Linked DNA regions of Homo sapiens. The protein of the gene in region 1 interacts with the protein of each later gene in a pairwise test. Each region holds a gene or a part of one and is shown on either strand. Other genes may lie near its edges.

Region 1 (7,775 bases):
GATAGTATAGTGTCCAAAAATAAATGCTTGCAGAATTAACTATACAACGACTGTGGATTTTATGCCGTCATACAGTATAATGTACCTGTAATCATCATTGTCTACATTACATTTAAATAAAATTTATATTTTTTTTTTGTTTCTGGTAAAAAGAAGCATGTTACAATTTTCCCCCCCAATTCACATAGGACTCTAAGAACATATTTTAAATCAGTGCTTCCATACAGGAACGAAATCCACTATTTTAGAATTCTAAATCTTGTTGAAAAGCAACTTTATCTGAAGAGTAAACAAGAAGATTCAAAGTTAAGTATCAGTGCAGTCCAGAGCCCCTAAATGAATAAAACTGAACGTATCTTAAAAATAGGATTTGCACACCAGTAAGAGACTTGTTTACGATTCTGGGGAGGAGGGAAGAAACTGTAAGAGGGAGAGAAAAGGGAAGAAAAACAAGAAGAAAAATAATAGGAAAAAAAAAAAGAAAGAAAGTTTGTTTAGCTCAAAGTCAATGCAAACATAATGCAACTCGTAATCAAGCTGGGTTCATGCTGTTCCAGCAGGTATTGCGTGGAAGGCCTCATCACCAACAGACACAGATTTCTGAGGCTCCATACTCACCAGTGAGTTCTTCCAGAGCAGGCTGTCCAGTCTTGGTGAAGTGGCTGGGCTCCACGCTCACACCTGTTGAGCTTGACTCGGCAGTAACATTCCCTTCAGTGTCCGTCTGAGACCTTCACACACAAACCGAAGCAGACACACTTGTCATGAGAGGCAACTACCACATCTGGACCACTGTGGTCTAACCACAGCCCTCACCATCACCTCCTGTAGCAAGAAGCTTCAGAACAGAGTGGACCAGCAGACTGACGCTAAATAATTCATTAGCCGTATGTGGAGCAATGTCCTAAGAACAGAGAGAGCCGCTGAACTGTAAAAGATAAACTTTTCATTGCCCAGATGGAGGGTCTGCAATCCCTCACTGGGGAATGCTTCTCTGAACCTCCGTCAGGATGCTAGGTCTAGCCAGACACATGCTGGAGGGTACGGGGTGATTTGAATAATTTAACCTATGCCAAAGAACAGCTTCTAAGTAACCAGCCATGCCAACAAGTCAAACATAAAGATGACTCTATTAACAGCTCCCCCACCCCAAAATTCTCCTGACATGGTTTTCTCTATAAAGGTGACCATAAAACCAGTCGGAAGTGGGTGCCAAGCAGGTGTGTTTGCCCTCCAGGTCTCTGATTCAGAGCTTAGTTCTTCTGACATGAAAGGTCTCATTGATCATTATTTCAACACTTGACTGAAATCTGTACTTCCCCAAACCCTCTCCATGCCCTTATTTGTCAAGCAAATTGAAGCAACAGCTTCATGCAATGTTTTCTTGTCACAGCTACCTCTGCTCATTCAGGCATGGCATGCAAATGCATAATTACACTCAGATGCATGACCCTGCATGTAACATTATTAACGCACTGGCATGCTGAACTAATTCAACCGATTTCACTACCTGTGAAGAAAACGTTTGCCCAGAATGAGAATGGACCACGGGGGATGTACTGATAAACCTCAAGTCATCCAACTGTTCTTCCCTCCTTTGTTCTTCCTACTGAGGCCATCGTTCTCAATTCTGTTATCTTTACCTTTAAAGGATTTCATACTCCCTGTGCTCCTTTCACCTCCAGCCAGGGTCCAAGCCCTCATCATCTCTGCTGAGGCCTTATGAGTACTTTGAAACAGGTACCTCACACCTAGAGGTTACAAATGGCAGCCCGGTGTGGAAACCAGCCCAACTTATTCCTACTGGTCTGCATAATATTTTAAAGTTTTAAAATTAGTTCAACATTTAAAAATCGGGATATTTCACAATAAATATCTGCATTTCTGCCTTCGTCCAGTAAAAACAATAAAGCTTGGAAAGGACTGTCTTTGTTATTGCAGATCGCCACCTGCTGGTGCCAAGTGGTGGCTGCACCCTCTAAAGAGGCGTGGCTCCCTCTGCCACAGGCCCACTCACCCTGAGCCACCCATCTAGATGACCATTTAGAGGCCAATTAGGCATCTGAATCTGTGATCTCCATTCTACACTCTTCCTAAGTTTGGTCTACTCCCCACACGATCTTTCATTGACTTTTGTAATACTGACGTGATGACATCACTGTCTTCGGTGGTTTCCATTACCCACAGAATAAGGTCTAAACCCCTTATTGTGGTAGATGATGGCCACATTCTTCCTTTATTTCCAGCCCCATCTCCTGCCTTTCCAACTCTTTACATACAACTCTACTATGCTGCACCCACATGTGGCTTCTCTCCACATGGCTTTAACAGGTTTATCTTTGCAGTAACTACAACCTCTCTGCCTAAAGGCCCTTCTCCTCCTTCCTTAGTTCGCTGCTAATCTGTCTTTAAGATGCAGCTTCCATGTCATCTTTTCCTGAGAGCTTTCCTTGACTCCTTGCCAGGAGTTCCTACAGCACTCTCCTTATTCTCTTGTTGGCTAAAATGTGATCCTATAGCACTCTCCTTATTCTCCTGTTGGCGAAAATGTAAATCTTTCCTCAACTAGATTGAGAGCTCTTCAGAGGCAAAGGTTAGTTCAAGTTCATATGCTACACAGGCAACGCAAGAAGGGTGTGTTGACTGGATAAATAAGAAATGTTTAAGTCTCAGAAGATGCTAGGTACTAGAAGGAACATTAGACTTGGAAGTCTAAATATTCGACTAGCTCCAGGTCTAAGATCTATAACTTGTTAGCCATGCAAAACTTGAGTTGTCACTCCACCTCTTTGAATCTCAGCATCCTCATCTGTACAATGGGGATAATAATAGCAATCTCCTCTGGTTCTATAAAAATGAAAGGTGATGTGACACACAACTCTTAGTAAACTATAAAGTGATAAAGTGATAGATGAATCCACTGTTACTTCTGAATTGATAAATATAATTCATTCTGAGTGATTTTTAAAAAAATGACCCATCTTCCCTTTACTCCTTGGTAACAACTTTAACATGGAGAGGTTTTGGTGGGCGGGGGGGGAGCAATTATAAGTTATATATAGTGAACCATAAGCTTGAGGGAGAGAATTTTAGAGCAGAAAAGGAGAATAAACCATTTTATAGAATCTAATCTAATCCAATCTTCTCATTTTCCAGATGAAGACAATAAAGATAAAGTGATTTAGAGTCAAGACTGGTGGTTAAGAGCCTGGTCTCACTAGTTAGACAGACTTGGCTTTTTGGTTTGTTTGTTTTTGAGACAGTCTCGTTCTGTTGCCCAGGCTGGTGTGCAGTGGCGTGATCATGGCTCACTGCAACCTCCGCTTCCCAGGTTCAAGGGATTCTCATGCCTCAGCCTCCGGAGTAGTTGGGACTACAGGCGTGCACCACCTCGCCAGGCTAATTTTTGTATTTTTAGTAGAGATAGGGTTTCACCATGTTGGCCAGGCTGGTCTTGAACCCCTGACCTCAAGTGATCTGCCCACCTTGACCTTCCAAAGTGCTGGGATTTCAGGTGTAAGCCACCATGCCCAGCCTACACCTGGTTTTAAACATGAGCCCCTCTAGTCTAGTTCTGTGACTTGGGGCAAATTGCTTAATTACCTCTAAGCTGCTAGCTCATGGAGGTGTGGGAAGAATGAAGTGAGCTAAGATGTGGAAAGCCCTTAGCGGACTCTGTACCCACACTCGATCAATACCTGTTCCTGCAGCCAGTGCCGAAGACCTCAGAGGGCACCAAGGGCTGATAAAGGACAGGGCCCAGGTGTCCTGATTCGTATCCTGGTGCTCTTATTTCCAGCGTCACTTCCCAGACTACCCTAAAGATGAAGGCAACTCAGAGGGGACAGAAGGACGTTAGTTACCCAGAGTGGGCATTAACGTAAAAACGGGGCTAGTCAGATCCACATCATAGACGTTTTCCTCTTCCTCCTCTTTGTCAGACATTTGCTTTTTATCATTAAGACTTTTTCTTCTGATAGAAAAGCTTGAAATAAAAAAAGGTTATATCTTTTATAATCTTTCAAATGATTATAGCGAACAACAAAAAAAGAAGGAATGGGATTGATGGTGATCAAAGACTGTCATATTTTAATTTTGAAAATGCAAATTGAGAAGCTGTGAATCCTGAATATGTATTACCTTAAGACTAATAATGCTATTGGAATTATAAAAATTTCATATGGAGCTATTTAGTTGCCTCCACACTTCAGAGAACAGTTCATGGCTGGGCGCGGTGGCTCATGCCTGTAATCCTAGCACTTTAGGAGGCTGAGGAGGGTGGACTGCCTGAGCTCAGGAGTTCAAGACCAGCCTGGACAACATGGTGAAATCCTGTCTGTATTAAAATTAAAAAAAAAAAAAAAATTAGCCAGGCATGGCGGCATGCACCTGTAGTCCCAGCTGCTCAGGAGAGGCTGAGGCAGGAGAATTGCTTGTACCTGGGAGGCAGAGGTTGCAGTGAGCTGAGATGGTGCCACTGCACTCCAGCCATGGCGATAGAGCGACACTCCATCTCAAAAAAAAAAAAAAAAAAAAAAAACAGAAACAAAACAAAACAAAAGCCGTGTATGTAGACCAGCTGAGTCATTATCTAAGCCCTGGTGCTCTCTCAGGATTGTGAGCTGAGCTGATGACTTGATTCAATAAAATGAGACCTTCTCCCAATTAAAAAGATTGGTATGACCCTCACTGAAGGAGAATGCAAGCAGAACAAAAGGAAGGAGTGCAATGCCTGACATTCCTTTGCTGGCCTGGTGCTGGCTGGCTTTCCTTTGAAAGCACTTAAGCCAGTCCCTCCACCAGCTATTGGCAGGAACTGTAACAGAGACCACTAGAACACAGCTCAGGAGGAAAGAGGGAATATCGAATTCTTTGGGGAATCATACAAACATAGCAAGCTGAAAGTCTGGGCATGCACCTATGCACCTGAACAGGTATGTAAATACGGGTATGCACATGTGCCTTTGCATTTTATGTATGAATGTATACTTGTGTCCATGCTTATATGTGACTTTTAATGTGTGTCCACATGTATGGCTGTATGAGTGTGAGTGTACAGCTGTGCATCTGTATGCACTTGAGTTACAACTGTAAAATACGTGTCTAGAATGTGACACTTGATCATTAATCCTCTTTTGTGTGTACAAGTATTAGTTATCCAATTGTGCAATGTGGCCAAATGCACTGCTCATCTCCAGCACAGGATCGAATCAGGCACTGTCAGTGAAAGCTCTGGGAATGATAAGAACTTTAAGGGCAGGGGTTGGGGAGCTTCCATCTGCCTGGAGTGGACTCATCCATGTGTATGACGTGGCCCCTGAATCCCATGTGCCTCATTCAGCAAGGGGTGTGGTGTAGCCTGAGCAATGAGCAATGTCGCTGACCAGAATCACACAGAGCAGCAGCACCACTGTGTGGACTGGCTCCACACAGTCTCCCATGGTCCTGAGGATGTGCCATCAAAGAGACAGGGGCTAGGGGACAGATAAAGACAGAAGGATCCATCCATCTCCACAAACACCCAGGCTTATCTCCTCAGAACATGAGCTCTTGTTCTTCTAGACCAGCCCCTCCCCTACCATTACTCTTCTCCCCAATGTCCCTCTCCCTTCAGAAAGCCCCAGCACTCAGCAGGGACTGTGAGGATCTGGATGTTCAAGGCAATCCCTGCTATAAGAAATCTTAGTTATTGAGCCAGGTGTTTATTATTTTATTTATTTTTTAAGTATGTTGGGATGTGTTAGGACTAATGCTGGGGACTGTCGGGTGACACCAAACCGCCCCCACCCTCATATTTAGGCCTTCATGCTTTCTGCTCAGGGAAGCTGCTGCTACAAGGCCTGGGGTCCCCACTTTCCTATGCATCCTGGGATCAGCTCACATTTTACTTCCCTTCTTCAGCTTTCTCTGTTCCTTCCCCAACCTGTGCTGTATGAACTGCTCCCTGGAGCACATTGTGTCTGCTTCTCTTAGGAGTTCATCACGTGGTTTCTTAGCTACTGACTTAAGTATTCCTGGAGCACAGTCTAGCTTCTGCCCTTACAGACCCGGAATCCACTATAAAGGAACTTTTACCCAATGTCCCAGGCAGCACAGGTGGGTGGCAGCTCCTACCTGTACAGGAAAGGTGCAACCGTGGCAGTGTTGGGATGGTTGTATTGCTGCTGGGGCTGAGGTAGCTGAACACTGACGGTATTGCTTCCTGTGGTCTGGGTGGTCCCGACAGACCCACTGACAGTCTGGCTGCTGATGCTGTGGTTCAGGGTGGTCCCTCCTGGGCCTTTTCCTTCTGAGGACGCCAGGCTGGAAGAGGAACTGGAGTGTCTGCCGTCCAGCTGGGGCTTCTGCTGGGGGAGTCCTGAGCTCAGCTTCCCACTCCGGCTCCGCTCCCCTTCCTTGGAAGGCGCTGGGGCACTTGGGGATTTCCCGGGCATGCTTTTCATTCCTGGTTTTGGTATTCCACTGTGGGAAGGGGCCATGGGCTCCTTCTTGGCACTGTTGAGCTTCCCCCCTTTGGGGATGAAGCTGGCAATCTTGGAGGACTTTTTTGGCATCTCGGGCACAGCTGCTCCACTGGGGTCTTCTTTTGGCTCCTCCTTGAGGTCCAGCCTCTCCGTCACAGAGGCTCTCTTGGCAAGGTCCTTGCTTTTCTCCTTATCCTTCTCCCGCTGTTGTTTCTCCTTCTCTTTCTCATTGCCTTTCAGAGAACTCTTCTTGTTGGTCAGTGCCCGGCTAAAAGTCCTCTGGGCAATGCCCTTGAGTGCAATCTTGGGGCTGCTGGAAGCAGGGCCCACGGTGGTGAGCATGCGACTGGCGGCCTCCAGCTCCTCGCTCTCTTCGAAGCTGGGCAGAGTCTCCAGCCGCTCACAGCTTGTGTCCCGGGACCCCGGCCCCTCACCTGCCTTTGAGCCCCCTTTACTGTTGAAAAGTTTCAGCTTTTCCAGCATGGACTTCTGATTGTTGGGGGCCGGCTTCATGGCTTCAGGTGTGGGCCTGGGGGCCTCAGGCCCAGGAGGCTTGACCGAGAGCATGGATACCGTGGCACTGTGCTTCACGCTGAGGGATTTGCTGCGCCAAGGCTTGGTGGCTGCACCGGGCTGCGGGATGGCCGAGGAGGTACTGCAATTAGTAGGGGTGGAGCTGCTGCCGCTCTCCAAGGAAGCAGGTGCATTGTCACTCATTCCGGGGTGGGAGGAGGCTGAACTTGCCAAAGGCTCTGCAGAGACAGAAGAGAGGAGGCCTGAATCATACTTGTTGACCTGCACTGAAGACCAGGGAGGGTCAGCCATGGCCACACAACCAATCACTCCCAACCCAAATGCCGTATAGCTCCATTGCCCACTTTGTGGATTATCTGTGGTTAGGTTTTAATTTCTGGCTTGACTTCCTCCTGCTTTCCATACTGCACAGTTCACATCCCCCCAACCCCATCACATTTTGGTGGCATGTGCCACGTGAAAGCATGCAGGTCTTAACAAATCTTAACAGACACCTGCACCGTTAATACAGCCAGTGCAGGAGAGAGTAGGAAATACCTACCGTTTTCAATTATTCATCCCATAGCCTGTTTCCCAATTATGGGAAAGAATCAAGAATTATCCAACTTTAAGCAAACAATGTATCAGAGACATTAAAATACAACAATTACAAAAATAGAAAAGAAGGAGAAACCATGTAGAATCTTTAAAAAAGAATAATTACACACAAAAGTTGTTAAAGCCTATTAAAGCATGTAAGTTTTTCCTATGCTGGCACTTTTTAAAAGTTGCAAATGG
Region 2 (7,775 bases), on another chromosome or scaffold:
CCTTTGCAAACTGTTTTATAATCCACTTCAACTTAATTTATGATTTACCTTTATATAACTGTTTAAGACAGTTCTAATATTTTCTTTCTCTAGATTATTTGTTTAATCATTCCATGTTTATTGATATGAAAAGAAATAGGTCATTTTACTATTTAAAAAGCTTTTCTTTTTTTTGGCTAAGACACACTATATTTTACAAGGTGTTTCCTAAGTCTGTGTTTTCATATTTTGGAAAACAGGCTACGTGTTTGGCCACTCTCTTGTTCACACGAATGGTACGATACATTAACTCATGAAGTCAAAGGATACTCATCAGGCGGAGAGCAGCTGCACACATAATGCACGGCTCCACAGTGACATACAACACAGTGTGTTCAAATACTTCAGAGGGACTCTTGCCACTTTGACGACACCAATCGAGGACCTGATCGATGGCCACCATTTCTGCATGTCGAGTAGCCTGAAAAGAGAAAGGGGCTTGCACTGATGCTGTTTGCTTCATGTGACTACTATTTTACAAATATACAAAAACTAAGTACAAAATATGCGCCTATCCTTTCTGCCAATATTTTAATGAATACAGTTTCAAGACACCCTTAGCAGTGGACAACGTATTCCCCAATTCAAGTACCATAACCTCACTTGCGAAAGATATCTAATCAGAGATGCCACAGGAATCATGCTGTATTTTTAGTTAAGTACCTAAGTACCTTAGGGAAAACTCTTTCAATTAAAATGCCATGGAGAAGGTAAGTCTAAAAAACAAAGAAAAAAAGATAAAGTCTATGGTTTCTGAATATTTCAGGGGAAGCAAAATTTTCATAAGCTTGTGCTCTAGTTTCAAATATATTTTCAAGGCTGTCACTGACCTCACTCCAAGCAAATCTACATTAAGTTCACTGGAATGTCATCTCTTACACTTTTGGGGAATGAGGTTTTATATACTGGAAGACTCTAGAGAAGTAGAGATTTGGTATTGGTTTCAGACACTTCATGGGAAGCAGTAGAGGATAGGAGAAATCACATAGCATGTGGAAGTGACTCCATTTAAATTTGAATTTTGACAGTGACATTACCAATTATGTGGACTTACGCAAGTAACTTAACTTCTGTAAGTCTAGGATTCCCCATATGTAAAATGGTATACACTGGTATCTACACTTATAAACCTTATAAATCTGAATTACATGAAGCATGGTGCCACATAATACTACACATGTACTCTGCTAGCTCTTGTCTCCTTTTCTTTCTCCCTTACTAAAATAGCTTAAAGTGAATCATAGATTCTATATGGAATAATTATTTATAATATTCATGACAATAGTATTTATCAATAATTTACACTGAGTATTAACCATGCACAAGCCACTGGGCTAAATAAATTCTGTGTAGGATAAAAAGTCTCTGTCCTCAACAAGCATAAAATCTGGTAGGGCTCATTTACCTGTGAGATAGGGCAGGGTATGAAAAGTGCTAGCACAGTGGCCCAAGATGCCATGGAAGCTAGAGGCAGATGGGAGCAGAGCTGGCCAAGGGGCTACATGGGTGAATCACAGAACTAATTACCAGAGATGGAAGGTACTTTACAGAAGAGGTTCCCAAACCTGGCTGCACACCAAAACTAAGTGGAGAGTTTAAAAAAAAAAAAAAAAAAAAGGTTTCCCCAACTTAGGTGCTTTCAAAAAATCAGATTTAGAATTATGGAATCAAATCTCCCTACAGCTCTCAATAAACAATTGCTGAACTCAATCATCTCAGTCAACTCTCTTACTACTAAAGAAAAAGAAGCTAAGCAAAGCTGGCATGTGTTAATCACATACAGCTGGGAGAGGAGGTGGTGGTGGCGACTGGGTAGTGGTGGTGGTATCAGATCCAAAAGTAGAACTCAGGTCTTCTCATTTGGGGTCAAGAGTCTTTCTATGCTGTAGTTATAGAGTAATCTTCTTTATGACACGGAATAACAAAATAAACCCAGGTTAATTTCAGCATATAGAAGAAACCCCGGTCACTGGATGGGGTTAGATGGGTATTGTTAGGACAGTCAAAGTTCTCATCTTAAGACATCATACACAAAATGCAAATTGGAAAATTTGACCACGATTTAAAATACAGAATTCTACTCCTAAATAAGTATCTATACATTCATTAATTGCTGTATTATGTTTATTACTTATCTCATGTTTTAATATCCTCTTAATAACTGCTTTGTGATTCAACATGAATGTAATTAAAACATTTTTAAAAATTCTTCAAAACATCTTTTTCAAAAAGAATTTTTGTATGTTTTACAGTATTTTAAATTGATATTTAAAATTATGTCATTTTTCAACAAACATCAGCTAATTGTTTGCAGAGGTATGTGTACATGCTTCTGTTTTTTTCTAACTGAAAAGGTAACGGCTAATTTAAAAATGTTAATTCTATATGGGAATGACTACCCTGGCAGTTATAATACTTCTCAGTGTTATAATGGTAATTATTTTAACATTGTTTGAAATTATTGCACATGTGAGTTAAAATTAAAAGACTGTATATATTTGTATATTGTTACATGATTTATATGAAAGAAAACTGTCTGGAAGAATATGGCAAAATTTTAATAGTTCTGCATAGAGAAATGAGATAGAACTGCTTCTACTTTCTGTATTTGAAATTTTAAAAAGGTATTTCAAAATGAGCATTTAAACAACAAAGAAGGCCCTGACAGTGGCTGAACTCCCCCAGCAGATGTCTGATGCTAAGAACATGATGGCTGCCTATGACCCCCAGTATGGCCTCTATCTAACAGAGGCTGCCATTTTCAGGGGCTGGATGTCCATGAGGGAGGTAGAGGAGAAAATGCTTCATGTCCAAACCAAGAACAGCAGCTACTTTGCTGACTGGATCCCCTACAATGGGAAAACAGCTTTCTGGGACATCCCATCCGCAGGACTAAAAACGTCCACCACTTTCATCAGTAACAACACGGCCATCCAGGAGCTGCTCAGAGACGTCTCAGAGCAGTTCACAGCCATGTTCAGGTGCAAGGCCTTCCTGCACTGGTACATGGGCGAGGGCAAGAATGAGATGGAATTCACTGGGGCCGAGAGCAACATGAATGACCTGGTATCAGAGTACCAACAGTATCAGGATGCCACTGTTGAGGAGGAGGGAGAGTCTGAGGAGTGGACTGAGGAAATGGGGGCGTAGAGCCTTCTGTTACTGGGTTAAGGGCGGGGGTGGTATGAATTCTTCATTTGCCCACAATGTGTTCTGTGATAGTCATGTCTGTGTGGGCACTTGCTGTTCTTGCTGTGTGTTCACCTCTATTAAAGCATTTCCATAGTAAAAAAAATAAATAAATAAATAAAAATTAAAAGTATGACTTACATATATTCATGCTTCTCACTTATTACAGGGTAAATTTAAAACTGATTCATTAAAAAGTTGTCTTTTTCAAGAATTCAAAGGACAAAGAATTTTGTGAAATACTATATTTTTATTTAAGTGTCTTTTTTCTTTCTAATTCTACACTTCGATCTACTATTTTTCATAAGCAAATTGATAAAAAAGTTTTTTTGGGGGGCTGACATATTAACTACAGATTTTCTATGCAGTGAACATGGTTATATATAAATCTGAATTGTCCAACTACTTTGTCGGAACAGTTCCTATTGATTGGAACTGCTAGGGCGAAGTATATGCAAAATCTACATTTTGAGTAAATTTCCTATAATCAATGTAAGCTTTCCCAGTGTTTGAACGTTTCCCATTCCCTAAAACTGTTCAAACATTAGATATCAGTATTTTTAATCACTGATAATCTAATGTTACAAAGAAATTGCTTTTTTCTTCTGTTAAAGTTAAGTTAGATCATCTTCATGTAGCCTTATTGGTTGTTATTTCATTTTCCTCTGTTCCTTTTATTTTCACTTCCCTTGTAATATTAGTCTCTCTGTTACTGATTTCTAAGAACTCATTTCTGATTAAGGATGTGAACATTTTGTCAAGCATTGCAAATGAAATACCATGTTTATTCCAGTTTATTTTACTGTGGTGTTTTATTTTTTTGGTTGTACAGAAGTTACGTATTAAAATATAATCCTGTTCTATTTTATGGCTAAAAATAAATAAGTAAATAAATGATTTGTGAATCTGGATTCCTATTTTACATGTGTTTTGCTAAATATCAGTTTTCTTTTCAATAGATGTGATTGATAGATGAACTAGTTCCCACAGCCCTGGTATCAACACCAGCTTATTCTCTGGCTCCCAAAATCATATGACAAGATAAAAGTCTGTGTGAATGGCATTACAGGTATAAGTGATCTTTGAGTCCACCTAGGAATTTTTGTAATCATAAAATTTGGTAGTTTACTTATACTTCCCAAGTATACTTATCATGACACACTATTGTGATACCATGTTTAAGAAGCATTGCCTTGAACCATGAACTTCCCAACCTAACCACAATAAAAGTCATACAAGCTATTAAAATGTACATGCTACATGTAGCTACAGAGGCAGCTGGTGTTGAAGACCCTATTTTGTTGAATTATCTGATAAAGGAATAGCTTCCTTTATATAATCCTCATACCTCCCTCCAAAGCTATACATTGAGGATACTTTTTTAACTTACTAGGATGAAAATATTATTTAAAGGTACTAAAAAAGGAATGTATTATGAGTTAAATTGACCTATTTTATAAAATGAAAATTTCATATATTAGATTGGCTTAAAGTAGAGACAGACTTGTTTCTTCCATGCTGACATTCTGATGAAATAAAATCCCCTCTTGGGTTTCACTCAAGCATTAGAGTAAAACTCTATGAAACAGAAAATTATTCACTAAGATTTTATGGCTTCATTAAATTGTTCTGAATTTTCCACAATAAAAAAAATCAACATGTATCACTTTCAAAATCAGGAAGAAAATGATACTGAAAAAGAGAGACGTTAAGAAAAGCTACCCACCACTGGCAGCTACGGGACTATATTCAGTCTCACCTTCACACCAACTGTGGTAAATTCTCTCCAGTCCACCCATCACTACTGTATGTTTGCAATTATACTGCTCAACTCACATACATTTTTGGTTTGGTTAACTTCATTTCTCCCCTTCCCTACAACTTCATTGTTGTAGACCATAAGACAGCCAACAGGAACTTCAGTATTTTCGAGGGCTTCTTTGGCCTGAAACACAAAGTGGAAAATGTAAGACGTAATACTCCATACTTGAAGAGAGTATAGGAGAGAAAGAGATGCAGCATGAACAAGATACACATGTACAAAGACTGAAACAAAGAAGTGCAGCCTTCCCTTTTCTGGAATATAGTTCCATTACGGTATTTAGTGCCCGTGTTCTGTGTTGTGTCCATGTTAAGGGAGACTCAAAAAAAATCCCCTTGATAGGTCCAGAGCCCCTGATGTCTTCTCATTGGAAATAGACGTGATCAAAGGAGACTGTGACTGACCACTGTTCTTGAAGTGCCAGGGTCTATGTGTCTTTTCAGAGATAGAATACATATTTGCAAAAAGGTAGGGGACTAAATAACACTTATAGATCCTTTATTACAATCCTTTCCTCACTGAAATTCCTTTGCTTCTCTAAAAATTATAGAAATTATCCTCTAGAGTCCCAATAGCTAAAGGTAACCAGACTGGATGTCACCCTGTCCCACAATTTCTACTCTATGTGAGACAATAAGAGTTTAGAAGTACTCTATGTAAAATGGCACAATCATTATGAAAAACGTTTTGGAAATTTCTTTAAAAAGTAAACACACACACAGTCTATAACAAAATTCCACTCCTAAGTATTTAAAAGAAGGGAATATGTGTCTACAAAAAAAAAAAAAAAAAGAAGAAGAAAGAAAGTTTGAAAAAGAACCAAAACCTTGAAAAAGAATGTTAATAGCCAAAACCTGAAACTGCACAGGTGGCCATCAACAAGAAAATGGATAAACAAACTGTGTCCTATTCATATAATGGAATACTAGTCGGCAATAAAAAGGAACTACTGATACTGTGACAACATGGATGAGCCTCATAGACATGCTAAGTAAAGGAAGTCACACACAAAAGCACACATACTATATGATTCCTTTTGCACAAAGTACCAGAATAGATAAAACTAAACTACAATGACAGAAACTGGAACAGTGGTTGCTTCATGGAGGAGGATGTGCAGATTGATTGGGGAGGTACACAAAAAAATTTTCTGAGGTGGTGAAAACTTTCTGGATCTTGATAAAGACATGGATTACAGAGATGTTTGCATTATTCAAAACAGATTGAAGGATACATTTACAACCTGTGCATCTCACTGTATATAAAGTATACCTCAACTGAAAAAAATCAATGAGAAAAACAAGTTTAGGAACACTTCCATGACTACCATCCCAGGAATGGCAAACCAATTATTATATTCTCAAAGTTCCCTTTATCACAGGCCATTCGTTTTTCTTCTTGTCCCATGATAGCAGCTCTGGGCCCTAGGAAAATTAACTCTACCTTCAGGCGGAGAGCTTAAGCAGGCAGGTTATGCCTCAGTATAACCTGATACTGCCTCTGAGAGTCAGAATAAGGGAAGAGTACAACCCTTGGACTAGTGTACATTCATTCCCATCTCAATGCAGTCAAAAGAATATAACTGCTGTACAGCTGTTTCCAGAAAGGCAAGGTATTCCTTACTGTGGCAGCCCTGAAGAGACTTTGGAAGACTTGATTCTCACTTAAGTGCAGGTACTTACACACATCATAGGGCATATAAAGTGCAAAGTTGAAGGCATTGTTAAAACAGTGTCTTCTGTCTCCTGCACCAGTCTCTTACTCCCAGTTCTACTTTATTTAACTAGTGACAACTTCCTATTATAAGGCATACAGGATTTCCTCAGTTATTCCCACCATGTTCAACGGACACTTATTCTTCATTTGGCCATTAGAGGAAAAAGGAGACGCCCACAGCAGGAGCAAACTGGGCCTCTCTTTTCTCCATCTGGTTGGTGGGTCAGAGATGGGGCATGGAGAGATGTGAGAAGACAGTATCTGATGCAGTAAGACTGCATTCAGGACTATTTTATGAACTATCCACAGGCCGGTTGTGTCCCAGTTCTGTGACAGTGGTTAAAGCATGTCCAGTTTATGCAAGTTCAAAAGGCTTGAAGAGTCCCGAGGTTTGGTTAATATAGACAAATGCACCATAGGCTACTATAGAGAAGAAAGCCAGGAAGAAGACGGACAGTTAAGGAGAATGGAAATGCTAACTACCAGTGTAGCTATGGCAATTATTATACTAAGAATTTTATTTAAGGTAAGTGTAGAATTACACAGAGATCAAGGTACACAGAAGAGACAAATCATTTATTCATGCAAAAAATATTTGTTGAGGATCTTGAGATGGAGAGATTATCCCAAATTCAGGTGGGTCCTGAAGGCACCCACAGAAGGCAAGAGGCGAAGTGATAACGGAAGGAGAGAGAGAGAGATTTGAAAATGCTGCACTGCTGGCTTTGAAGATGGAGGGATGGGTCATAAATGTCACTTCAGTACCTGGAAAAGGCAGGCTTCCAGAAGTTATTCGGCCCTGCCAAAACTTTGATTGGGGCTCACTAAAATTTCAGACTTCTGGCCTCCAGAACTATAAGAGAATAAACTTGTGTTGTTTTTAGCCACCATGTTTGTGATAATTTGTTACAGCAGCCATAGGAAACTAATACATGCAGCAAAGAGGAAGAAAAACATGCTAAAATAGGAAAAAACTTACAAACCACATCTCTGGCAACACTCTAGTATC

What was found.
Region 2: the proteins of NAV2 (region 1) and ADAT2 interact in binary tests that used the Homo sapiens proteins (3 or more experiments, as listed by UniProt).

What each region holds. Positions count from the first base shown.
Region 1 is NC_000011.10:19,932,617-19,940,391, reverse strand, and holds part of NAV2 (neuron navigator 2), read right to left. Parts: intron 7,217-7,775; coding exon 6,115-7,216; intron 732-6,114; coding exon 619-731; intron 1-618. UniProt on the Homo sapiens protein: Possesses 3' to 5' helicase activity and exonuclease activity. Involved in neuronal development, specifically in the development of different sensory organs.
Region 2 is NC_000006.12:143,433,522-143,441,296, forward strand, and holds part of ADAT2 (tRNA-specific adenosine deaminase 2), read right to left. Parts: intron 7,620-7,775; exon of another isoform or gene 7,532-7,619; intron 5,174-7,531; coding exon 5,069-5,173; coding exon of another isoform or gene 5,065-5,068; intron 461-5,064; coding exon 310-460; intron 1-309. UniProt on the Homo sapiens protein: Probably participates in deamination of adenosine-34 to inosine in many tRNAs.